3 linked regions of the Homo sapiens genome follow. The protein of the gene in region 3 binds, or shares a complex with, the protein of the main gene of each other region. Each region holds a gene or a part of one and is shown on either strand. Other genes may lie near its edges.

What was found.
Region 1: the proteins of ARPC5L (region 3) and ARPC1B are in contact, whole or in part, in a cryo-EM structure (PDB 6YW6), measured with the Homo sapiens proteins. Residues at the interface, in NP_112240.1 of Homo sapiens: Asn21, Lys22, Arg102, Gly139, Leu140, Gly141, Ile144, Arg145, Thr148, Arg150, Lys151; in NP_005711.1 of Homo sapiens: Arg118, Lys138, Arg142, Phe164, Ser201, Gly203, Trp204, His222, Asp223, Ser224, Thr225, Leu240, Ala241, Ser242, Glu243, Thr244, Leu245, Pro246, Phe281.
Region 2: the proteins of ARPC5L (region 3) and ACTR2 are in contact, whole or in part, in a cryo-EM structure (PDB 6YW6), measured with the Homo sapiens proteins. Residues at the interface, in NP_112240.1 of Homo sapiens: Arg11, Arg12, Val13, Asp14, Ile15, Asp16, Glu20; in NP_005713.1 of Homo sapiens: Tyr225, Glu263, Phe266, Gln267, Arg319, Lys322, Gln323, Ser338.

What each region holds. Positions count from the first base shown.
Region 1 is NC_000007.14:99,369,500-99,377,830, forward strand, and holds the start of ARPC1B (actin-related protein 2/3 complex subunit 1B), read left to right. Parts: upstream 1-5,230; 5' UTR 5,231-5,282; intron 5,283-8,331. UniProt on the Homo sapiens protein: Component of the Arp2/3 complex, a multiprotein complex that mediates actin polymerization upon stimulation by nucleation-promoting factor (NPF).
Region 2 is NC_000002.12:65,223,350-65,231,216, reverse strand, and holds the start of ACTR2 (actin-related protein 2), read right to left. Parts: upstream 3,387-7,867; 5' UTR 3,308-3,386; coding exon 3,260-3,307; intron 1-3,259. UniProt on the Homo sapiens protein: ATP-binding component of the Arp2/3 complex, a multiprotein complex that mediates actin polymerization upon stimulation by nucleation-promoting factor (NPF).
Region 3 is NC_000009.12:124,857,632-124,865,457, reverse strand, and holds the start of ARPC5L (actin-related protein 2/3 complex subunit 5-like protein), read right to left. Parts: upstream 3,329-7,826; 5' UTR 3,060-3,328; intron 1,471-3,059; 5' UTR 1,351-1,470; intron 1-1,350. Other genes in the region: RPL35 (large ribosomal subunit protein uL29), read left to right, coding at 3,546-3,548, 3,903-4,039, 5,194-5,275, 7,391-7,540. UniProt on the Homo sapiens protein: May function as component of the Arp2/3 complex which is involved in regulation of actin polymerization and together with an activating nucleation-promoting factor (NPF) mediates the formation of branched actin networks.

The sequences.
Region 1 (8,331 bases), on a different chromosome or scaffold from region 3:
GAGACTCCATCTCGAAAAAAGAAAAAAAAAAAGAGAGAGAGCAAGAAGGTATTTGACAATAGCTTGTGGGTTTCATTGTAGACCTCGGTTTGTCAAACTGACACATCAGGCCATGTGGCTTGGAAGGGGGCTGTGATGGGATGTGGAATGCTGAGCGAGTGTTATGGGGGCCCCAGCTGTGGGGTACATCTGCCTTGCAGGCCTTTAGCCACCTTACCAGATATGTGGCCTTGGGGCTTTGGCCCCAAGGTTTTATCCTCTCCCCTCCTGCTGTCAGTTGGGATGGATCCCTTGATCCCAGGGAAAGTGACCCACATTCTGGGGTGGACCAGTGGGACAAAGGGGAGATTATACTGGATACTGGGAGCTCTTAGAAAAGGTCCCTGCCACCGCCCCCCCTCCATCTCCCATCTCCCTGGTCTGCCTTGGCCCACCCACTGCTTGTCTGCAGTCAACCTAGCTGCCATTTTGTGACCAGGAGGCAATAAAACTGGTGCTTGAAGCTGGGAGGCAGAGGTTGTAGTGAGCCGAGATTGTGCCACTGCACTCCAGCGAGACTCCATCTCAAAAAAAAAAAAAAAAAAATAGCGACAGGCAAGGGGCAGAAAGCCAGCAAGAACCTGGGAGACTGCACCAGCCCTGGCCTGCCTCCCCCACGTCGGCCAGCCCTGGAGAGTCACAGCCTGGGTTTGTGGCTGCATTTCTTGGAAACATGAGAAGGCAATAAAGGAAGCAGGAGTGTGTAGCATCTTCGTCCCAGGGCCCTGCACAAAGCCAATTCTAGGAAGAAACAGAAAGCTCTCCAAGTTGTTCTGGGAGCTCCAGATGAAATCCTTCCATCACCAAGTTCCCTAACCCAAAGTGTTTCTCCACGTACGGCTTAGAAAACTTTCTCCCCCAAAGGAGCCATTTCAAATAATGCCTTCCATTGCTTTCCAATCTGAGGTCTGCTTTCTCCCATCCACTGGGTCTTCCCTCCACGACTGAAGGCCTGTGGGACGGGTGGGCAGGTGGACAGTGCTTGTCAGCTTCACTTTACAGATGTGGAAACTAAGGCACGGTTACACTACAGGTTAAGTGGCAGCACCAGAACTGGACCCACTTTCTTTCTTATTTTTCCTTTTTTGAGATGAAGTCTCGCTCCATCACCCAGGCTGGAATGTAGCCTGGTTACAGTGATCTCGACTCACTGCAACCTCTGCCTCCCGAGTTCAAGTGATTCTCCTGCCTCAGCCTCCAGAGGAGGTGGGATTACAGGTGTGCGCCACCATGCCCAGCTAATTTTTTTTGTATTTTTAGTAGAGACGGGGTTTCACCATGTTGGCCAGGCTGGTCTGGAACTCCTGACCTCAAGTGATCTGCCTGCCTCAGCCTCCTAAACTGCTGGGATTACAAGCGTGAGCCACTGCGCCCAACCTTTTTTTGGGGGGGATGGAGTCTTGCTCTGTTATCGGCTCACTGCAACCTCCACCACCCTCATTCAAGAGATTCTCCTGCCTCAGCCTCCTGAGTAGCAAGTAGCTGGGACTACAGGCATGTGCCACCACACCCAACTAATTTTTGTATTTTTGTTTTGTTTTGTTTTGTTTTGTTCTTCGAGACGGTCTCACTCTGTCACCCAGACTGGAGGGCAATGGCGTGGTCTCGGCTCACTGCAACCTCCACCTCCCAGGTTCAAGCGATTTTCCTGCCTCAGCCTCCCAAGTAGCTAGGATTACAGGCATGTGCCACCACACCCAGCTAATTTTTGTATTTTTAGTAGAGAGAGGGTTTCACTATGTTGGCCTGACCTCGAACTCCTGACCTCGTGATCCGCCCGCCTCGGCCTCCCAAAGTGCTGGGATTACAGGCGTGAGCCACTGCACCCAGGCTTTTTTTTTTTTTATTAGAAATGGGTTTTCACCATGTTAGTCAGGCTGGTCTCACCCTCCTGACCTTTTGTGATCAGCCTGCCTCCGCTTCCCATAGTGCTGGGATTACAGGCGTGAGCCACCATACCCGGCCTGGACTCAGTTTTCTACCACTGGATCATTCATTAACACATCTGTTAAGATGTGTGTTGAGTGACTCAGGCACCGGGCTCTGTCATGGGCCCAGGGGAGAGAAGAGGGAACAGTACAGCCATGGCTGCGGCTCGCATAGGCTTTTAGAGCCTTTACATCAACTCAGGTGACCTTAGTTTACATTTTCGCAGATAGGAAAAAGGAGTCTTGAGGTATGCATATTTGTTAGGATGCTTTGATGATTCGCAGCAGAAAAACTCAAAGCAGCCTAAAAATAAAGTGGAGGCTGCACACCGTGGCTCACGTCTGTAACCCCAGCACTTTGGGAGGCTGAGGCAGGAGGATTTCTTGAGGCAAGGAGTTCGAGACCAGCCTGGGTCACACAGGGAGAGCCCTGTCCATACAAAAATTTTAAAAATTAGCTGGGTGTAGTGGCGCATGCCTGTGGTCCCTCCCAGCTACGAGAGAGGCTGAGGTGGGAGAATCACTTGAGGCCAGGAGTTTGATACCAACCTGCACAACATAGCAAAAACACTATCCTTATAAAAATTTTTTTTTTTTTTTGAGAAGGAGTCTCGCTCTTTCATCCAGGCTGGAGTGCAGTGGCGTGATCTTGACTCACTGCAATCTCCGCCTCCTGGGTTCAAGTGATTTTCCTGCCTTAGCCTCTGGAGTAGCTGAGATTACAGGCGCGCGCCACCACGCCCGGCTAAGTTTTGTATTTTTAGTAGAGACAGGGTTTCACCATGTTGGTCAGGCTGGTCTCGAACTCCTGACCTCAAACGATCCGCCTGCCTTGGCTTCCCAAAGTGTTAGGATTACAGGCATGAGCCACCGCACCCAGCCTATAAAAATTTTAAAAATTAGCCAGGTGTGATGGTGCACACCTGTAGTCCCAAGTGCTCGAGAAGCTAAGGCGGGAGGATCACTTGAGCCCAGGAGCTGGAGGCTTCAGTGAGCTGTGATTGCGTCACTACATTCCAGCCTGGGTAAAAGAGGGAGACCCTGTCTCTAAAACATATTAATTAATTAAGCGGATAACTTGGCTCACATATCTGAATCTTTGGAGGCAGGTTGGGCTCAGACCTTCCAGTCAGAGGTGACCAGAGCTCCGGTTACTTCTCTGACCTTCTCTCGGCTCTGCACTCTCCCTGCAGCTTCCCTTGTTGCTGTTCCACTTCCGCGTTCCACTTACGAGTCCAGATTCCTGCAGCTCGCTCAGAAGGGGCTTTGTGCGCTGGATCATCAGCTGAAGTCCTGGGCTTTGCTTTGATTGGGTCATCTTAGGTCACAAGTGCAGCAGGACAGGGAACACCGTGAGCTGATTTAGACCACTCAGGGCCACTTGGGGTCATTCCCTGGGCATCTACAAAGCGGCAGAAGAGTAGGATGGAAGCCAGGGAAGCAGCAACAGGGTCACCTCAGTTACCCTACACTTGTCCCTGTGGGAAGAGGGCTGCCGGTACAGACCCCTTGAAGCTTTGTATCTGCTTGAACTAAAACCACCGCCTGTGTTTGCTGAGGTTGCCGACATCTGTCTGAGAAAATACGCAGGAGCAGCAAGGTTGGGGGGGCTCAGAAAAGTTCGAGCACTTCCTGTGTGCACACTGTATGACCCGATTCACACACCTGGACACATTTAATCCTCCCAACTACCCTAGGGGGTCGAATTCAGTGGAAAAGAGAGCGGCGGCTAAGGGCACCTCCAATGGGGAGGGTGTCGGGGCAAAGCGACCTGAGACCCCCAGCCACATACTGCAGGACAAACCAATGTCGGCAGGTGAGGACAGGGTGGGAATAGTGTTCCAGGCAGAAGGAACAGCGAGTGTCAAAGCCTCTAAGCCTGACAGGGTGGGAGTCTGGCCTCGGATCTCCAGAGATCCAGGAAGACCCTGCACAAATACTAGAGAGAGGGGTCTGAAGGAGAGAAGAGGAGGGAAGGTTTTTGTTGTTGTTTGAGAGGAAGTCTCGCTCTGTTGCCAGGCTGGCGTGCAGGGGCCCCATCTTGGCTCACTGCAGCCTCTGCCCCCGGGGTTCAAGCAATTCTCGTGCCTCAGCCTCCCGAGTAGCTGGGATTACAGCAGCGCTCCATCACGCCATGGGGCTCCTTGCAGCTAATTTTTTTTTTTTTTGAAACAGAGTCTCACTCTGTCGCCCAGGCTGGAGTGTAATGGCGCGATCTCGGCTCACTGCAACCTCTGCCTCCTAGATTCAAGCGATTCTTCTACCTCAGCCTCCCGAGTAGCTGGGATTACAGGCATGCGCCACCACGCCTGGCTAATTTTTGTATTGTTTAGTAGAGACGAGGTTTCACCGTGATAGCCAGGATGGTCTCGATCTGAGCTCGTGATCCTCCCGCCTCGGCCTCCCAAAGTGCTGAGATTACAGGCGTGAGCCACCGCGACCGGCCGAGGTAAGGTTTTCACTGGGGTCTCTTCCATCTGCCTGGCCGCCAGGCCACGTATCCACTGAAGAGGCAGAGGGTCAGGATGGGAAGACTCCGGGGACCACCTAGCCCAAGACCCGCAATCAGGCGGCTCTGCAAGGCTAACCGGGTAACTTAAAGAAGTGAAGCCGATTGACGTAAAACAGAAAGGAAAGAAGTTAACTGGCCGGCCAGCGTCAGCAGGGGCGGCCAGTGTCACCCTGCCCGGGGACAGCACCCCTGTTTCGTGGCGAGGACACGGAGGGCCAAGGGGGCGGGGCCGGGCTGCCCTGGCCACGCCCGGACCGCCTGCTCCCCGCCCAGGGCCTGCACAGTTGGCGCCCACCGGCATCAGCGTGAAGGGAGCTCCTCGCTGGCTGCCGACGGGGCTGCAGGGCTCGCTAGCCGCTCACCTGCGTGTGAGCGCGGAGCCCGCAGTACCCGCCGTCCGGGCTCAGAGGACGTGACTCCCCGACCCTGCGCCCGGCAGTCCCCGGGGGCCGTGCGCCCGGCCCAGGCTCGGAGGTCCAGCCCAGCGGCGGCTCAGGCTGCGCGCCTGGCTCCCAGCCTCAGTTTCCCCATTGGTAAAGCATTGACGGTGGTTGCGGACGGCTTCTGCGGACAGAGCCTTGGGCTCCGACGTCTGCGCGGGTACCGGCAGCACCCCCACCCCGAAGGGAGGGCGGGACCTGGATCTCGCGACCGCTGCCCCAGGTCCCCGCCCCCGGGCCCTACCGGGCTGAGGTCGGCAGGCCCCGCCCCCCGCCCACGAGGAAGTGGCTGCTGCTCCGGCGCGGAGCCCAGAGCCGGTTCGGCGCGTCGACTGCCCAGAGTCCGCGGCCGGGGCGCGGGAGGTGAGGGCCGTGGGGGCGCCCGGAGGTGGGGGTCAGGGGAGCCACCTGGAGGTGGGGGGGCGCGTAGATGTGGGGCGCCGCCTGGGAGTGAGCGGGACTGGAGGGATGAGAGGGGGTGCAAGGAGGGGACCGGGGGGCGCCTGGAAGTGAGGACGCATAGATGTGGGGCGCCGCCCAATAGGGGCACGGGGATGAGTGGGGGCACATGGAGAGGAGGGGGCGCGGGGACGAGGGGCTCACGGAAAGGAGAGGGAGCCCTGGGATTGGAGGGGGCGCGGGGGTGGCCGCAGGGCCAGACTGTGGAAACGCGGGCTCCCAGCGCACCGGGCGCCCTCGGGGCGTCCCCAGCCCCCGGCCCCAAGCTTCCGCCTCGTGCCTTCCGCCCCTGCTCCCCGGCCCCCATCCCCAGCCTTGCCCCGCGGTCGGTCGGTGTAGCCCCGTTACTTCGGGCCGGCGGGGCCCCACACCCAGTCACTTCCCCTCCATCCCCGGAGCCTTCCGGGTTGCAGCCGCCGGGAAATGAGCTGGCGTCTCCTGCCGCCCCGCCCCTGCCCTCCTGGCCGCTCCCGCTGCTCCCACCCGCCTCCCCCGGGCCAGGTCCGAGGGGTCCCGTACGGGGCGGGCCTGGCTGGCGGGGTCCCGGAACGCACCCCCTCAGCTGCAGGGCTCCGCGGCCAGGGCAGATCCGAGCAGCCCCTCCCTTTCCGGAGGCGCTGGGAGAGCAGCCAGGCCGCCTAGGGCGGGGCGGGGCCGGGCTGCACCCGCGGGCAGTGAAGGGATCAGGAGTGCAAGCCTGGGGAGTCAGACCTCCCCCTGCCTCCTCTGCCAATGCAGCCCGGAGGCTACCACCACCCATCCCGGCCGGGCGCGGTGGCTCACACATAGAATCCTAGCATTTTGAGAGGCCCAGGCGGGAGGATCGCTTGAGGCCAGGAGTTGGAGGCCAGCATGGACAGCATTGCGAGACCCTTTCTCTATTAAAATAAATAAATAAAATGTAGCCAGGCGCTGTGGCTCATGCCTGTAATCCCAACACTTTGGGAGTCGAGGTGGACGGATCACTTGAGGTCAGGAGTTCGAGACTAGCCTGACCGACATGGTGAAACCCTGTCTCTACTAAAAATACAAAAATTACCCAGGCATGGTGGCACGCACCTGTAATCCCAGCTACTCAGGAGGCTGAGGCAGGAGAATTGCTTGAACCCGGGAGGCAGAGGTTGCAGTGAGCCGAGATCACGCCATTGCACTCCAGCCTGGGCAACAGAGCAAGACTCCGTCTCAAAAAAAAAAAAAAAAGCCACGTAACATGCCTGTAATCCCAGCTACTTAGGAGGATGAGGCAAGAGAATTGCTTGAACCTGCCTTGGCAGTGAGCCAAGACTGTACCACTGCACTGCAGCCTTGGCAACAGAGCCAGACTCCGTCTCTAAATAAATAAATAAAATCTTAGGGACCTAGGTAGGAGTGCCAGCTTCTCCCTTCACTGGCCAGTGACTGGTAAGCCACCCAACTCCTGCCAGCCTCAACTTTCCTTATCTGGAAAATGGGAACCTTAAAGACTGGGAGGCTGAAATGCAATACTGCAAGACACCTGGCAGCGTGTCAGGCGCTGACAGTATAAACGTGCGTTTGTTGCTCACCTTGATCATAGTGTTCCCCCAGGTGAACCTAACTTCCTGGCCTCCAAGATTTGGGGTCAGAGTCCCAAGCTGCGTCATTTAGTAGAAGCCGAGTGACTTTGAACAAATCGTTGCTTTTGTCTGAGCCTGGGTTTCCTCCTGTACAAACTGAAGGTAAAAAGCAAACAGGCTGGGCGCGGTGGCTCACGCCTGTAATTCCAGCACTTTGGGAGGCCGAGGCAGGCAGATTACCTGAGGTCGGGAGTTCGAGACCAGCCTGACCAACGTGGTGAAACCCCGTCACTACTAAAAATACAAAATTAGCCAGGTGTGGTGGTGGGCACCTGTAATCCCAGCTACTCAGGAGGCTGAGGCAGGAGAATCGCTAGAACCTGGGAGGCGGAGGTTGCGGTGAGCCAAGATCATGCCGTTGCACTCCAGCCTGGGGTTACAAAGCGAGACTCTGTCTCCAAAAAAAAAAAAAAAAGCAAACAAAAAATGTCTCAGGCTTGCTTCAGGGGGAGAATGGTGAAAGGTCTGGGTAAAATCGCCCTGATAGATGCCGGTAAAGTTTGTTTCTTACATATGTCTGTACATAATCCATTGATAGGTCTTTTTCTTTTTTTCTGGAGTCCGGGTCTCATTGTGTTGCCCAGGCTATAGTGCCATGGCTTGATCATAACTCACTTTAGCCCCAAACTCCTGGGCTCAAGGGATCCTCCTGAGTAGCTGGGATTACAGGTATGTTCCTCCATGCCCAGCTAATTTTTAAATGTTTAGTAGAGGTAGGGTTTTGCTGTGTTGTCCAGGCTGGCCTCAAACTCCTGGCCTTAAGCGATCCTCCTGCCTTGGCCTCCCAAAGTGCTGGGGTTACAGGCATGAGCCTCCACGCCTGCCTTATACGTGCTTTCTTTTTTTTTTTTTTTTTTTGAGACAGTGTCTTGTTCTGTTGCCCAGGCTGGAGTGTGGTGACACTACCTTGACTCACTGCAGCATCTGCCTCCCGGGTTCCAGTGATTCTCCTGCCTCAGCCTCTCAGGTAGCTGGGATTACAGGTACATGCCAATATGCCCGGCTAATTTTTATATTTTTAGTAGAGACGGGGTTTCACCATGTTGGCCAGGCTGGTCTCGAACTGCTGACCTCAGGTGATCCGCCCACCTCGGCTTCCCAAAGTGCTAGGATTACAGGCGTGAGCCACCGCGCCCAGCTTCTTCTTCTTCTTCTTCTTCTTTTTTTTTTTTATTTGGAGGTGGCGGAGTTTCACTCTGTCGCCCAGGCTGCAGTGCAGTGGCACAATCTCAGCTAACTGCAACCTCTTCCTCTCGAGTTCAAGTGATTCTCTTGCCTCGACCCCCCGAGCAGCTGGGATTACAAGTGCCCACCACCAAGCCCAGATAAATTTTGTATTTTTAGTAGAGAGGGTTTTA
Region 2 (7,867 bases), on a different chromosome or scaffold from region 3:
TAACTAGAAGCATAAGAACAGATAAATTTTATTTGAATTAATTACACTCACTTTTTTCATTTATGACAGGAATTGATCACTTGTCTTAAGGAAAAGAATCTTAAAAACATGGATTAGACACAAGACTAATCAATAACATACTACAATCAGCTTTTTTTTTTTTTTGTGACAGTCTCACTCTGTCGCCCAGGCTGGAGTGCAGTGGCGTGATCTTGGCTCACTGCAACCTCTGCCTCCCAGGTACAAGTAATTCTCCTGCCTCAGCCTCCCAAGTAGCTGGGATTTCAGGCATCAGAAACCACACCCGGCTAATTTTTGTATTTTTAGTAGACACGGGGTTTCACCATGATGGCCATGCTGGTCTCAAACTCCTGACCTCAAGTGAACCTCCTACCTCGGCCTCCCAAAGTGCTGGGATTACAGGCATGAGCCACAACGCCCAGCCTAAAATCAGCCTTCTAATGTTAGCTAACTAATGGAATAGTAACATAACATTAGCTTCTGACAGCAGGGTGCAGTGGCTCAAGCCTGTAATCCTAGCACTTTAGGAGGCCGCAGTGGGCAGATCTTTTAACCCCAGGAGTTCAAGACCAGCCTGGGTAACATAGGGAGACCCAGTCTCTACAAAAATAAAAAAATTAACTGGGTGTGGTGGCACAAGCCTGTAGTCCCAGCTACTCGGGAGGCTGAAGCAGGAGAACCGCTTGAGCCCAGGAGGCAGAGGTTGCAGAGAGCCGAGATCACGCCATCGCTCTCCAGCCTGGGCAACAGAGCTAGATCCTGTGTCCAAAAAAAAAAAAAAAAAAAAAAAAATCAGCTTCGGTTAACATTCCCATTCTAATTTAATATTTAAAAACTCATATATACTACAAATACAGGGCTCATTACCTTGAACCCCTAAAAGAATTCATTAAAATATAACTGGCTTGACTTTCTAAAAAGAGTATCTGACACAATCACAAAACAAAAAATTTTAAATTCAATTTTTAAAGTTTTTTATTTATTTAGAGGCCAATTTGAAACTATAGTGGAAATCAGGCTAATACTTTTTTAAAAAGCACATTTAACTGAATTTTAGCCGCACATGTAACATGCGTTTATGGTTAATTTAGTTTAAATATAGTTTAATAATACTTGCTTTGTTCAAATAAAGAACATTTTTCCAATAATTCAGAAAGGTCATGAAGTCCTCTCCATCTTCCCTCACTCCCTTATCCTCTGTCTCATAGGTAACCATTATGAACATTTCTTATGTATCCCTCCAAAACTTTCATATGCGGATACAAGTTTGTGGACATACATCTTTAATAAGGAACACACACTTAAACTGAATCATTCTAAAACCTTTTTCAACTTAAAATCTTAGACGTTTCCATAGCAGTGGATCTGCCTTTTTAAAAATATTACATTCTTAAAAACCGTCACATTAATATGTTTTGTTTTTCTTTTTTTTTTTTTTTTTTTTTGAGACGGAGTCTTGCTCTGTCGCCCAGGCTGGAGTGGTGCGATCTCGGCTCACTGCAACCTCCGCCTACCGGGTTCAAGCGATTCTCCTGCCTCAGCCTACCGAGTAGCTGGGATTACAGACGCCCACCACCATGCCCGGCTAATTTTTGTATTTTTAGTAGAGACGGGGTTTCACTATGTTGGCCAGCCTGGTCTCAAACTCCTGACTTCAGGTGATCCGCCCGCCTAGACCTCCCAAAGTGCTGGGATTACAGGCATGAGCCACCGCGCCTGGCCTCAATGTACGTTAACACTCTTTTTACTCTAGTCCATTTTTAACACAGTTCAGATGAAGCTACCATAATTATTGCTTGTAAAATTGTGTAACAAATCTAATCAAGGGCAGTATTATGGCAGTAAATACCAGCTCTTTTCCCCCTCAACAATTCAGATTCCAAAGTGTTTTGTTCAAGTAAAATGAACTTTAATTCATACATCATATTTATGGGAGGGAGGGGAGAAAACTCACAAAATGTTGCAACATCAAAATGGTTAGAAATCACTATAGAAGTCATCCAGAATAAATAATATTTCCATCTTCTAATTTGCTGACTTTGCTACCCAAAATACATTTTTTTTTAATCTGGCAAGAGGGAGGTCTGAATGAAACAATTTTTTTTTTTTATAATTGAGACGGAGTTTCACTCTTGTCGCCCAGGCTGGAGTGCAGTGGCGCAATCTCGGCTCACTGCAACCTCCGCTTCCTGGCTTCAAGGGATTCTCCTGCCTCAGCCTCCCAAGTAGCTGGGATTACAGGCAAGCACCACCACGGCCGGCTAATTTTTGTATTTTTAGTAGAGACCGGGGTTTCACCACGTTGGCTGGGCTGGTCTCGAACTCCTAACCTCTGGTGATCTGCCCGCCTGGGCCTCCCAAAGTGCTGGGATTACAGAAACAATTTTCAAATAGTTTCTAAATCAGTGCTTTAGTCAGATTTTACAATTTTTGAATCTTAAAGGCTAACATTACCTGTATACTGAAACGAAGGGAAAAAAGGGGGCTGGGGGTGGGATAATCAACACTAATTAACTTCCCCTAAGGCTAGTGGAATTAACACTTGAGTCTTGCGGGATCCTAGGTCACCCAAAACCACTCAATGGAACATGCTGGTCTCCGTGGGCCTACTCCTGGGCCAAATACTAGTATGTAAAACAAAAAGTGAACGATGCGCTGCCGATCTGGACCCCTTCCCTCGAAAAAACTAATAAAAAGCCCAACAAACACAGCGAAAGGGCTGAGGTCCACACTCCATGACAGCACTTCCCTTTTTTTTTTTTTTTTTTTAAGTAAACCCGCTTCCTGCTTCTCGTTTGGTGTATCTTCAACTATACAGGAAGAGGAAGGCCTCTAGGTCTTTCTCCTTTTTACAAACCGGTGGCCCTGGGGAAAAGAGCCCTTCTCGGAACACACAAACCGAGCCTTTTACGCTTCCGTCCGCTTTAGCCCAATTGCCCCCGCATTAGCGCGGAGCAGGTCCCTGCCGGGCGGTCAGTAGGCTCCATGTCCAGTGCCGGTCTCGCCCGCCGCCCCCACCCGGAAGGGTGAGGGGGTGGCAGGCTAAATGGGTGGCAGGCTCAAGGGAGACCAGGGAACGGCCGGCTCGCTCCCACGCCCGCGGAGGTGGGAGGCACCGCCCCGCGCCCCTTCGCCCCGAGGGCCCGGAGGTGCAGCCCTGGGGGCCGAGGGCCCGTGCGCCAGCTGCTCGTCCCCGCCGGCGTCTGTGGCCGCCAAGGCCTCCTCGCGCGGCCCTTACCCCGGTGCCGTTGTCGCACACCACCACCTTCCTGCCCTGGCTGTCCATCGTCCGCCCAGGGAAGAGCCGCTGCAGCCGCACAACCTACAGCCACCGCCGCCCGGCCGTTTTCTCTTCTTCCTCTTGCGTCTTCCCGGCCCCTCCTTCGGCCCAACTTTTTTCCCCCGACCGGAAGCCGCCGCCGGGCTCCGCCCGTCATTTAGCTGAATGCCTGCACGAAAAGGGTGGGACGGGCAGGCAGCGCGACTGGCAGCGGTGAGCTCCAATAAAAGATGGAGGAGCGTCGAGGCCCCTCCCGCAGCTCCGCTTCCGGCTCGGCTGTCACGGTCGCTGCCCACCCGGGTTCTTCGCTGCTTCTAGTTCCGGGCGCTTTGCCGGGCGTTAATGGCGGCCAACATCGCCGGTGCTGCGGCTTTCTCCCTAAAGTGTCACAGGAGCTAAGGGCGCTGCTTAACGAACTGCAGAAGACGCAGGCAGGTGAAGGACACCGGTTCTGCTGCGGCAGTGGAATGTGGCGGAGAAGCTGGCGGGTAGGGCGGGGAGCAAGCCTGGAGGTCCTGGCGGACCCCACCATTCGACAGGGCTTGGTGTGTTATTGCTTCTAGGCCTTTTCAGCGGACAGAACTGGGATGGATACACACATGCTTATTTGAAATCATGCGTTTGTTCCATACTCCAATGTCAGCCCACCCCTTCTTTGCCCAAGTTGCTCTATGGTCAAGTGAGCGAGAGCAGGTGCCTGCATTTCCAGCCTCGTGGCTCACCGCCTCCTTCCAGTAGTCCCATGTTGCTTCACACCTCTTAAGTACATGTACTTCTGTGAACCCAGAGCCTTGGCTTTGAAATCAGACAACCCCAGTTTCAAACGTGGCGCTGCCACTCACGAGTTTTGTGATTTTGGCATACCCCTGTCTGCATGGGGATAATAACTTCTATCTCCATAGGTGTGGTGAGGATAAAAGTCTATGCATGGAGGAAATGTTCATTCAGTGGTAGCTATTTCTAATTCTGTTCTTCTGGACCTATGATTCTATCTACGATGCCTCATTTTTTTTCCTTTTTAATCAATTGGCAAACTTGTGCTCTGAGACCCAGCTTGTTACATCTCTGATGACAGCTGATATCCTCAGGATATTCCGTACTTCCTTTCTCCCTATTACTTTACTATGAATATATGAATAACATTGTGCTTATTGCATGCAACAAATATTTATTAGATGAATGACATTAAAATTCACCTTTAAAATGCCATCCTTTATGAGAGGTGAGAAATAGAACTTTTCCTTCGACATGGCTGTACATGTTCAACAACTAGAATAAAACAGTCATCATGAACCCTCAATCCAGTATTCTTTTTATAATATAGCTGCCTGTCAGTTTTCACTGTTCTTTTATTAGACCAGTGATTTTCAAACCTTTTTAAAGGCATACAGTGCTTTATTCAAATCTAATCTTATATGGAACCCTCAACACATAAATATTAAGATAAAAATAAAGCTGCCATTGTTGCAATTAGAAGTTTGAGAGGTTAGAATAGGTAGGAAGTCTCGGAGGAACATTTCTTCGTTTTACCTGCTTTAACAGTCAGAGAAGTACCTCAGCCAGCAGAAAAATTTATTTGTTCATAAATTCCTTGAGTATAGAGTCCGTATCTTATTTTTGTGGCCTCCAATGCTAGTGCTGTGCAGTTTTCTTGAAAGTGCATTTTATTGGTCTCAGCAAATTGAACTCAAGCATTTCTGTGTTCTTTTACTTTTCCTCTTTGTGGAATTAAGGGGATTGCTAATTTGTATTTTTAAAGAAAGAACATTATTCCGGGCGCGGTGGCTCACGCCTGTAATCCCAGCACTTGGGGAGGCCAAGGAGGGCAAATCACCTGAGATCAGGAGTTCAAGACAAGGCTGACCAACATGGCAAAACCCCGTCTCTACTAAAAATACAAAAATTAGCTGGGCGTGTTGGCACGCGCCTGTAATCCCAGCCACTCAGGAAGCTGAGGCAGGAGAATCGCTTGAACCCGGGAAGCAGAGGTTGCAGTGACAGAGATCGTGCCACTGCACTCCAGCCTGGTGAGAGCAAGACTCTGTCTCAAAAAAAAAAAAAAAAAATTGGCAAGTTTGGCCCTAAAATTTATATGAAATGAAAAGGAACCAGAATAAAAGGATTTCGAAACAGAAAAAGATGGAGAACTTCCACTACCTGAATTCAAAACTTATTATAAAGCTACAGTAATGAAGACTGTAATACTGGCATAGAGGCAGATATATCGATCAATGGAATCAAATAGTCCACAAATAAACCTTTACATTATGGTCAGTTGATTTTCAACAATGGTGCTAAAACAATCCATGGGGAAAGGGTAATCTTTTCAATGAATGATGTGGGAGGGAAAAAAAAGAACTTTGATTCTTACCTCACATCACACATAAAAATTGATTTAAGTGGATCATAGACCTAAATATAAAAGCTAAAACTATAAATTTCAGAAGAAAAAGAGGAAAATCTTTTGATATTAAGTTAAGCAAAGTTTGCTTAGATATGACGCTAAAATCGTGATCTATAAAAGAAAAAATTGATAGTTGACATAATAGAAATTTAAAGCTTTTAGTTCATGTATTGAAACAAAAAATCTAGACTGGGACAATGGCTCACATCTGTAATCCCAGCACTTTGGGAGACCAAGGTGGGTGGATCGCTTGAGCTCAGGAGTTCAAGACCAGCCTAGGCCAGATGGTGAAACCCCATCTCTACAAAAAATACAAAAATTAGCTGTGCATATAGTCCCAGCTACTTGGGAGGCAGAGGTGGGAAGATGGTTTGAGCCCAGGAGGCAGAATTTGCAGTGAGCTGAGATTGCGCTACTACGCTACAGCCTGGGTGACAGCCAGACCCTATCTAAAAAAAAAAAAAAAAAAAAAAGAAGAAGAAAACAAAAACAAAAAATCTTGGTCTGTCTTAGGCAACAAGCAATTAAAAAAAAAGTAGAAAATAAAGCAAAAGGGCCGGGCGCAGTGGCTCACGCCTGTAATTCCAGCACTTTGGGAGACTGAGGCGAGTGGATCACCTGAGGTCAGGAGTTTGAGACCAGCCTCGCCAACATGGTGAAACCCCATCTCTACTAAATACAAAAATTAGCTGGGCGTGGTGGCGGGCACCTGCAATCCCAGCTACTTGGGAGGCTGAGGCAGGAGAATTGCTTAAATCCAGGAGGCAAAGGTTGCAGTGAGCCAAAATCATGCCACTGCACTCCAGCCTGGGCAACAGAGCATAACTCCATCTCAAAAAAAAAAAAAAAAAAGAAAAAGAAAAAGAAAAGCCATGAACTAGAAGAAAATATTTGAATAGATATTTTACCAAAGAAGATTTATGAATGGCAAATAAGTACATAAAAAGATATTCATCATCATTAATCATTAGAGAAATGCACATTGAAAGCATAATAAGATAACACTTAATACCCACTAGAATGGCTATAATCAGAAAAATAGAAAACAAGTTTTGGCGGGGCTAGGTGGCTCACACCTGTAATCCCAACACTTTGGGAAGCCAAGGCGAGTGGCTCACTTCAGGTCAGGAGTTTGAGACCAGCCTGACCCAACATGGTGAAACCCCGTCTCTACTAAAAAATACAAAAATTAGCCGGGCGTGGTGGCAGGTGCCTGTAATCCCTGCTACTTGGGAGGCTCAGGCAGGAGAATCGCTTAAACCTGGGAGGCAGAGATTGCAGTGAGCGGAGATCGTGCCACTGCACTCCAGCCTGGGTGACAGCGAGACTCCGTCTCAAAAACAAACAAAACAAAATAAAACAAAAAAAAATGGAAAACAAGTTTGGCAAGAATGTGGAGAAACAAACACTCCTACATTCCTGGTGAGAATGTAAAATGGTACAGGCACTTTGGAAAGCAGTTTGACAGTTTTTTAAAAAATTAAGCATAAATTGCCATATAACCCAGCAATTTCACGCCTAGGTATATACCTAAAAGAAATGAAAACATATGTCCATGGACTCATACCTACATGTCCATTGCAGAATTACTCATAATAGGCAAAAAGTGGAAACTATTCAAATGTCTTATCAGTTTGTGAATGAGTAAACAATATGTAGTACAGCCATACAATAGAATATTTGGTGATAAAAATAAACCAATACATGCTGTAACATGGATGAAAGTAAAAAAACACTATAGCAGATAAAAAGACTGTGATTTCATAGGAAAATCACAAATATAGAAAAAGCAAGATTATAGATACAGAAAGCAGGTTAGTGATTGCTGGGGCTGAAACTGGAAGCCAGGTTTGGCTGCAGATGGGCATGGGACAACTTTACGGATTGATGGAATACTAAAACTAGATTTTGGTAATGGTTACACAACCATAAAAATTTACTAAAAATAAACTGCACACTTGTAATAGGTAAATTTTGAGATGTGTAAATTTCATGTTGTAACTCCAATAAGGCTTTAAAAAATTTAAGTTACCTGCCCAAATGTACCTATCATGTAGCAGAAGCAGGATTAGACACAGGTGTGCCTGTCCTCAAAGCCTGAGCTCTGTTTACCCAGAGTTTTGGAAACTCCAGATCTATCATGAAAACCTAAGTCATTCTTA
Region 3 (7,826 bases):
TAGATGTGGCGTGTAAGAGAGAGTCACAAATGACTTCAGGTTCGAAAAAGATGTGCAGAGTCATTAACTCTAAGCATTTAAAAATATAACAGCAAAGGCACTGTGCACCATTAGACTTTCCTTTTTTTTTTTTTTTTTTTTTAGACAGAGTTTCCCTCTTGTCACCCAGGCTGGAGTGCAATGGCCCGATCTCGGCTCACTGCAACCTCTGCCTCTGGGTTCAAGCGATTCTCTTGCTTCAGCCTCCAGAGTAGCTGGGATTACAGGCGTGCACCACGTGAGCCACCACGCCCGGCCTAGACTTTCATTTAAGACTAAGCTATGCCGGCCAGGTACAGTGGTTCACACCTGTAATCCCAACACTTTGGGAGGCCGAGACAGGTGGATCACCTGAGGTCAGGAGTTTGAGACCAGCCTGGCCAACGTGGTGAAATGCCGTCTCTACTAAAAATATAAAAATTAGCCAGGCATCATGGCGGCACCTGTAATCCCAGCTACTTGGATTACAGTAGCTGTAGGCAGGCTGGGAGGCTGAGGCAGAAGAATCCTTTGGACCCAGAAGGCAGAGGTTGCAGTGAGCCGAGATTGTGCCATTGCACTCCAGCCTGGGCAACAAGAATGAAACTCAGTCTCAAAAAAAAAAAAAGGTCCAGGCGCACTGCGCCGTGGCTCATGCCTGTAATCGCAGCACTTTGGGAGGCTGAGGCAGGCGGATCTCTTGAGGTCAGGAGTTTGAGACCACCCTGGCGAAACCCCGTCCCTACAAAAAATACAAAGATGGGCCAGGCGCGGCAGCTCACACCTGTAATCCCAGCACTTTGGGAGGCCAAGGCAGGCGGATCACAAGGTTAAGAGTTCAATACCAGCCTGGCCAACATGGTGGCCAGGTGAAATATGGTGAAACCCCGTCTCTACTAAAAAAACAAAAATTAGCTTGGCTTGGTGGTGCATGCCTGTATTCCCAGTTCCTCGGGAGGCTGAGGCAGGAGAATCGCTTGAACCTGGGAGGCAGAGGTTGCAGTGAGAGCCGAGATTGTGCCCCTGCACTCCAGCTTGGGCAATAGAGCAAGACTCCATTTTGGAAAAAAACAAAAATACAAAGATTAGCCGGGCATGGTGGCACGCACCTATGTAATCCCAGCTATTCAGGAGGCTGAGGCACAAGGATCGCTTGAACCTGGGAGGTGGAGGTTACAGTGAGCTGAAATTGTGCCACTGCACTCCAGCCTGGGTGACACAGCAAGACTCCATTTCAAAAAAAAAAAAAAAAAGTCTAAGCCATGCCGGGATTGCCCTCTCTCTACTCTCTTTTTTCCCCATATCCCTCCACCTCCTGAAAGCCTTCCTCACCTTGGTGTGGGTCAAGGTTCATTAATTCATCCAACAAGCATCCATGTACTGGGCCTGGAGACTAGAACAATTAATTCAGTTGTCCGCCAAGGTTCTGTCCCCAGAGAACTTCTAGGTTGGCTGTGGAAATAGACACATAAATGCATCATTTTATTTCAGCCTGTTTGGGGCTAAGGAAAGGATTGCACAGAGGTTGCTACTCATAGGAGATGGGAGAAGTCTCCTTGTGGGTGGTTACAGCTGGTAGTAACAAGAGGACAATCTGGCTTCAACCATAACTCTAAGAGGTGGCATGTCTTTATTAAGGGCAAGGGAGTGGCACTGGAGTGCTGATTAATGCCTACTGGTTGGCAGACATTAATCAGAAAGCCTAAACATGCCCTGCCTTGTGAATTCCCGTTTCACTTTCCGGGCTCTACTGAAGTGTTCCTTCCTCTGGGAACATGAACACCAATGATATTTTGAGCCATTGTTATGCGTCAGATTTCGGGTTAACAGCTTTACAGATATCTCCTCTAATTCTCATAAATGCCTCATTTCACATGTGAGCAAACTGAGACTCAAGAAAGGGGAAGAGATTTCCCAAGAGTCTCAACTACTACCTTGGCAGCAGAGCAAGAATTTGAAACCTGGTCAGGTTCACTTTAAAAAAGGCTGTACTAGCCGGGCGCAGTGGCTCACACCTGTAATCCCAGTATTTTGGGAGGCTGAGGCGGGTGGATCACTTGAGGTCAGGGGTTTGAGACCAGCCTGGCTAAACCTTGTCTCTACTAAAAATACAAAAATTTAGCTGGGTGTAGTGGCACACACCTGTAGTCCCAGTTACTGGGGAGGCCAAGGCAGGAGAATCTCTTGAACCCGGGAGGTGGAGGTTGCAGTGAGCCGAGATCGCGCCACTGCACTCCAGCCTAGGCGACAGAGCCAGACTCCATCTCAAAAAATATATAAAAAATAAAATAAAAATAAAAAAGGCTGTATGGCCAGGCGAGGTGGCTAACCCCTGTAATCCTAGGCACTCTGGGAGGCCGAGGAGGGCGGATTGCTTGAGCCCAGGAGACCACCCTGGGCAACAGCTCTACAAAAAATAAACAAATTAGCCAGGCCTGGTGGCTTGTGCCTGTAGTTTCAGCTACTCGGGAGACTGAGGTGGGAGGGCTGCTTGAACCCGGGAAGCGGAGGTTTTGGTGGGCGGAGAGCGCGCCATGCCTTCCAGCCAGGGTGACAGAGCGAGACCCTGTCTGAAAAAAAAAATTAAAAAATAAAAAAAATAAATAAAGGCTGGGGCCAGGCGTGGTGGCTCACGCCTGTAATCCCAGCACTTTGGGAGGCCGAGGCGAGGGGATCACCTGAGCTGAGGAGTTCAAGATCAGCCTGGGCAACATGGCGAAACCCCGTCTCTACTAAAAATACAAAAAATTAGCCAGGCGTGGTGGTGCATGCCTGTAATCCCAGCTACTCAGCTACTCGGGAGGCTGGGGCAGGAGAATCGCTGAACCCGGGAGGCGGAGGTTGCAGTAAGCCGAGATCGCGACACTGCACTCCAGCCTGGCACCCTGGGCGACAGAATGAAGCTCTGTCTCAAAAAAAAAAAAAAAAAAAAAGGTGTAAATGCTCTTTGCAGTTCCATATACTGCCTCCCCAGAACCTTTATGGAGTTGGATTATAACTGCCTGAGCCCGCCCCTCCCGTCCATCTCGCGCTTTAAATTCCTCCGCGACGTGAGCCTCGGTTAATCGTCTTTGAAAACTCTGGCCCCTCCTCCCGTCAGCACCCCCAGACTACTGGCGCCCAGCTCAGAGTTGCCCAGATTGGGAGATCTGCAAGGTTTCCCGAAGGAATGAATGAACGAATGACTGAATGGACGAATTTGAGTCCTCCGTGTGCCATCTCTGGTAGCTGCCGCCCACGTTGGGCCTCGGTTTCCCCAACTGCGCGCCTACACCGTGACGCCGACCTCGCTATCAGGGGTGCCGTGAATGAGGCGAGCACTACAAGGCGGGGCTCCGGCCCTACCAGGCGGGGCGGGCAGTACCACGGCGTTCCTCGGGGGCGGGGGAGATGAGGCGGAGCCGGGGCTCCCCCGCTGCGGCGCCATTGGCCGCGCCCGCCGCCACCCGGCAGTAGTTGCGGAGGTCAGCCCCGCCTACTTCCTCTTTCCCTCGGAGCGGGCGGCGGCGTTGGCGGCTTGTGCAGCAATGGTGAGAGCTGCGGAATCGGGCGCCATCCGAGCGCTGTGAGGCGCGGGGGTTGGGGAAGGCGGTGCGGGCTGAGCCCGCGGATTCTATCTGCCACCTAGGCCTGTGGGGCGCCGCGCAGAATGGTCTGGCGCCACCACAACCCGCCTCTTCGCTTGGCGCCGGGAGAGGCGCGCGGCCCGGGCCTGGGTTACTCTGCCCAAGGCACGGCCGGCGAGGGAGACTGTCCTGAGCCCTGGTTGGGGCTCCGGCGCACTCGTAGTCGATGGCGAGTCGCGCGCCTTTGGGGGCTGGCCACGCAGGTGAAGGGGATATGGCCCCGCGGCCTGGCTGAGGCACACTCTCTCTTGCGCGCAGGCCAAGATCAAGGCTCGAGATCTTCGCGGGAAGAAGAAGGAGGAGCTGCTGAAACAGCTGGACGACCTGAAGGTGGAGCTGTCCCAGCTGCGCGTCGCCAAAGTGACAGGCGGTGCGGCCTCCAAGCTCTCTAAGATGTAAGTGAGGCGGCCGGATCACAGCCCTCGTGGGTGGGGAGCACGTGTGCATCGGGATCGTCGGAGGATTTCAAAGTTGGCTTAAGGAGCTGGCCGCTTAGATGCCCACTCCGTGCATCCTGGCGCGCATGGGAGACCCGTTGTGTGCTTAGCCTCTTACCTGCCTTGACCTTGCGGTCCTTGTGCCTGGAATGCATCCCCGGAGACCCATCTTAATGCTGCCTTCAAAGCCTACCCGGACCCCTTCCTTCCGCTTCCCACCAACACTTGAGTTTTTAACCCCCTTGGCAGGTGGGTGGCTTGCACCCTGGAGTGGCAGCGTAAGTTATTTTACATGGCTAAGAGTGCGGGAGACTTGTGAAAGGAACATGGGTTTGGAGTTCATCAACCTGGGTACAAAGTCCACTTCTCAAAAAAAAATTAGATGGGTGTGGTGGTACAGGCCTGTAGTCCCAGCTACTCTGGAGGCTGAGGCAGGAGGATCACTTGAGCCCAGGAGTTGGGAGGCTATGATGGGGCCACTGCTCTTCAGTCTGGTTGACAGGTGAGACCCTGTCTCCAAAAAAAAAAAATGGTGGTTGCCCTCTTTGCCCCCAAACAACCTTAGTAGAGGCAGGGGTGGGAGGATTGGACAAGCACAGTTGCACACTGAATCCTCAAAAACCATGTTGACCAGCTGTCTACTAGGTGACTCCCTCATCCTGACATGACTACAAATAACTTCTCCCTGGCTCGTTGTTTGCTTCAGTCTCCTGGCTTGTAGTGACTCCACTTTGCAAATGTCTTGTTTCTCTCTCCTGCAGTTCCCTAAGCTAGCCTGATTGCCTGGTTTGTGGCATGATTCCTTCCCATCAGCTCATTGAAATTGGCATTGGTTGGGTCTTAGCCCTCAGGATAAATTCGTGTTCTGGGATTGAAGGTCTTTTTCTGATCTGCCTCATTTATCCAGCCTGCACTTCCTCATAAAGCCTCTGCTGTCTCTCCCATGCCCCTCTCTTCCCTCCTCAGACCTCACTCCCAGAACGCCTTCCTCCTGAGTGAATATGGATGGGTTGATGGGGGAGGCTGCAGCTATTGCTGCCCTATGTGTGAGTCCTGAGTCTTGGGTAGTGCTATGTGTCTTCCCTATCTTCACTGACATCTCTGTTTTGTAGCCGAGTCGTCCGGAAATCCATTGCCCGTGTTCTCACAGTTATTAACCAGACTCAGAAAGAAAACCTCAGGAAATTCTACAAGGTGAGTCTGCCTGGACATAGGGAGGGTTGGCTGCAGGAAGCCAAGTGCTAGCCGTCCCTGGCCGGGGACATGGTAAAGAGGTTTTTCTTGGTGCGTGGGCTGAGAGTGGTTAGCCTTCCCAATTTGTTGCTGGGCTCACTCTTCTACCAGTGTCTTGCACTGGCACGTGGCTCTGCAGACCACTTCCTCAGGCTGCAGATGTCAAGAATTCATTGGGGCTTGGGGTGTCCTGGCTGGAGACTCAGTTTTTGAAACCAGCCTTCCCAGTTGAGTGGCTTGGGCAGTGATAGGACTGGCTGTTGAAGGTTTTCACTGCCTCTTACTGGCACTGGGTGTCAGTCCCTGCCAGGCACCTGCCATGCTCATTTTTCAGATGAGGGCCCTGAGGCCTAGACACCCACAGTCAATGGCATGATGGGCCCTGGTTCCAAACCTTACCTTGGGGAGGGTCGGCTTTAGTGTTCTGGGAGGTGTGCACAGGTGTCTGGCCCCCTCTTAGTCTTGAATTTTGATAACCATTTTCTGGTCTTGTCCTTAACATTCATCTTATTGGGGTTCAAGCAGAGAAAACTAGGGGGAGACGGTGTGTGCACATGCATCCAATGTATTCTGAAGAATGGGCATAGGTGATTGTGGGGGCTGGCTGGGACTCAGGGCTCAGGTTGAAGCTGCTGTTCCCAGTGGGTACTTGGAGGGAGCCTCAGCCCTGTGCTTAAGACTTACAGCTGATTGGATCGGGCCTTCTGGGATTACCCAGGATAATCTCCCCTAAAGTTACCTGATGAGGGTCTTTAATTTCATCTGCAAAATGGTTCCACATCACTACCCAAATTGTGTTTGAATAACTTGAAGATTTGACACAAGGGAAAAGCAGCCATGGCTGATGAAGTGCCACAGGCCTATAACCCCAGCTACTGGGAGGCCGAGGCAGGAGGATGGCTTGAGCCCAGGAGTTAAAGTGTAGCCTGGGCAACATAGTGAGGCCTCATCTCAAAAAAATGAGAAGGGCCATAGTGTGGCTATGTTAGCTGTTCAGGGGACACTAGCACGTGTGTGGCAAAAGTAAACCTTTAATGTCAGCAGCTACGTGTGTGGCTAGTGGCTGCTCTGTTGGACAGCAGAACTCTAGGGGGTTAGCCAATGTGAAAAGGACGAATGCCCAGCCGATGCCAGCAGGAGTGAGGGATGTGGGAGGACAAAGACTTTCCTGCTTCCAAGTACCCTCCAGGGCTGGCCCTCATTGTCCAGGATCTTTCTGCAGTCCTCTGCCCACCTGCAGGGGCCTGGGGCCCTGTGACCTCAGAATCCCCCATACCATGGGCCACTTGTTACCTGTTCAGTCTTCCCCCACTAGGCTGGGACCCCTGAGCAGGGACTGGGTCAGATCCTTTGCCAAGCCAGCTCCCAGCACAGGGCCCAGTCCTGAAGGGGGCCCAGGGGACCTTTGCAGAACACAGGAGAGACCAGTGAGAGCTGCCATGGTCTAGAACCCCCTGCTGGAGAACAAGTGGGGCAGGAGTGGGAGCCAAGGATGGAAAGACAGATGATGGCTCTGTGACAGCTGTGGGCAGGGGCCCCAAAGCCGGAAGCAGGTGGGGCAAGTGGCCTTGGCCAGCCAGGCCTCTGAGGCTGGACGTTCATACAGGCAGCAGCTGGTGGGCCCTGCATACAGATGGACAGAGTACTGCCTCAGCCCCCAGCATGCTCTTGCTAACCAGAGCCGAGGTAATGGTAACTACCCCCGGGGCTTGGTGGGTGCTGCGTGCCCTGTACTAGGTTGTCATGTGACTGTCCTCGTGACTGGGAATCGGGCAGTGGAAGGAGCACTGAGTTGGGAGTCACTTGACTGAGATGCAAGCCCCGGCTCTTCCACAGCTTTGCCAAGACTTGGACACTCAGCCCAGTAGGTCAGCAGACTTACATGAAATGAGGATGGTCCCACCAGCCTTAGATTTGGGGGGATTAATTGAGTTAGTGACATGTGTGGCCTGCTGGCAGTCCCATGGTGGCAGCCTCCTCCTGAGTGGCTCTGGATGGCCCTCCCCAGCCCCCTTAGCTGCTGCAGTAGCTCCTCAGCCCTGGGTCCTTGGATTCACCCTGCCGTCTGTCTCCCAGGGCAAGAAGTACAAGCCCCTGGACCTGCGGCCTAAGAAGACACGTGCCATGCGCCGCCGGCTCAACAAGCACGAGGAGAACCTGAAGACCAAGAAGCAGCAGCGGAAGGAGCGGCTGTACCCGCTGCGGAAGTACGCGGTCAAGGCCTGAGGGGCGCATTGTCAATAAAGCACAGCTGGCTGAGACTGCTTTGTTTCCTGGCACTTCCACTGATTGGGTGGAGGTGGGTGGGTCTGGTTTTGGGGACCAGGTGTCTGATGGGTTCCAGCAAGCGTCCTGCCCACCACAGTTGTCTGCTCTGGTGGGGCCTGGAGAGTCCTGGCCATGGGGATCTGCTGGATGCCAGCACAGTCACTTTGCGTCTGTGGGGAGAAGCGGCATGCCTGTGCGCCACTGAGGGGAGCGGGTGAGGTCGGCACCATCTAAGGTGGTTGGT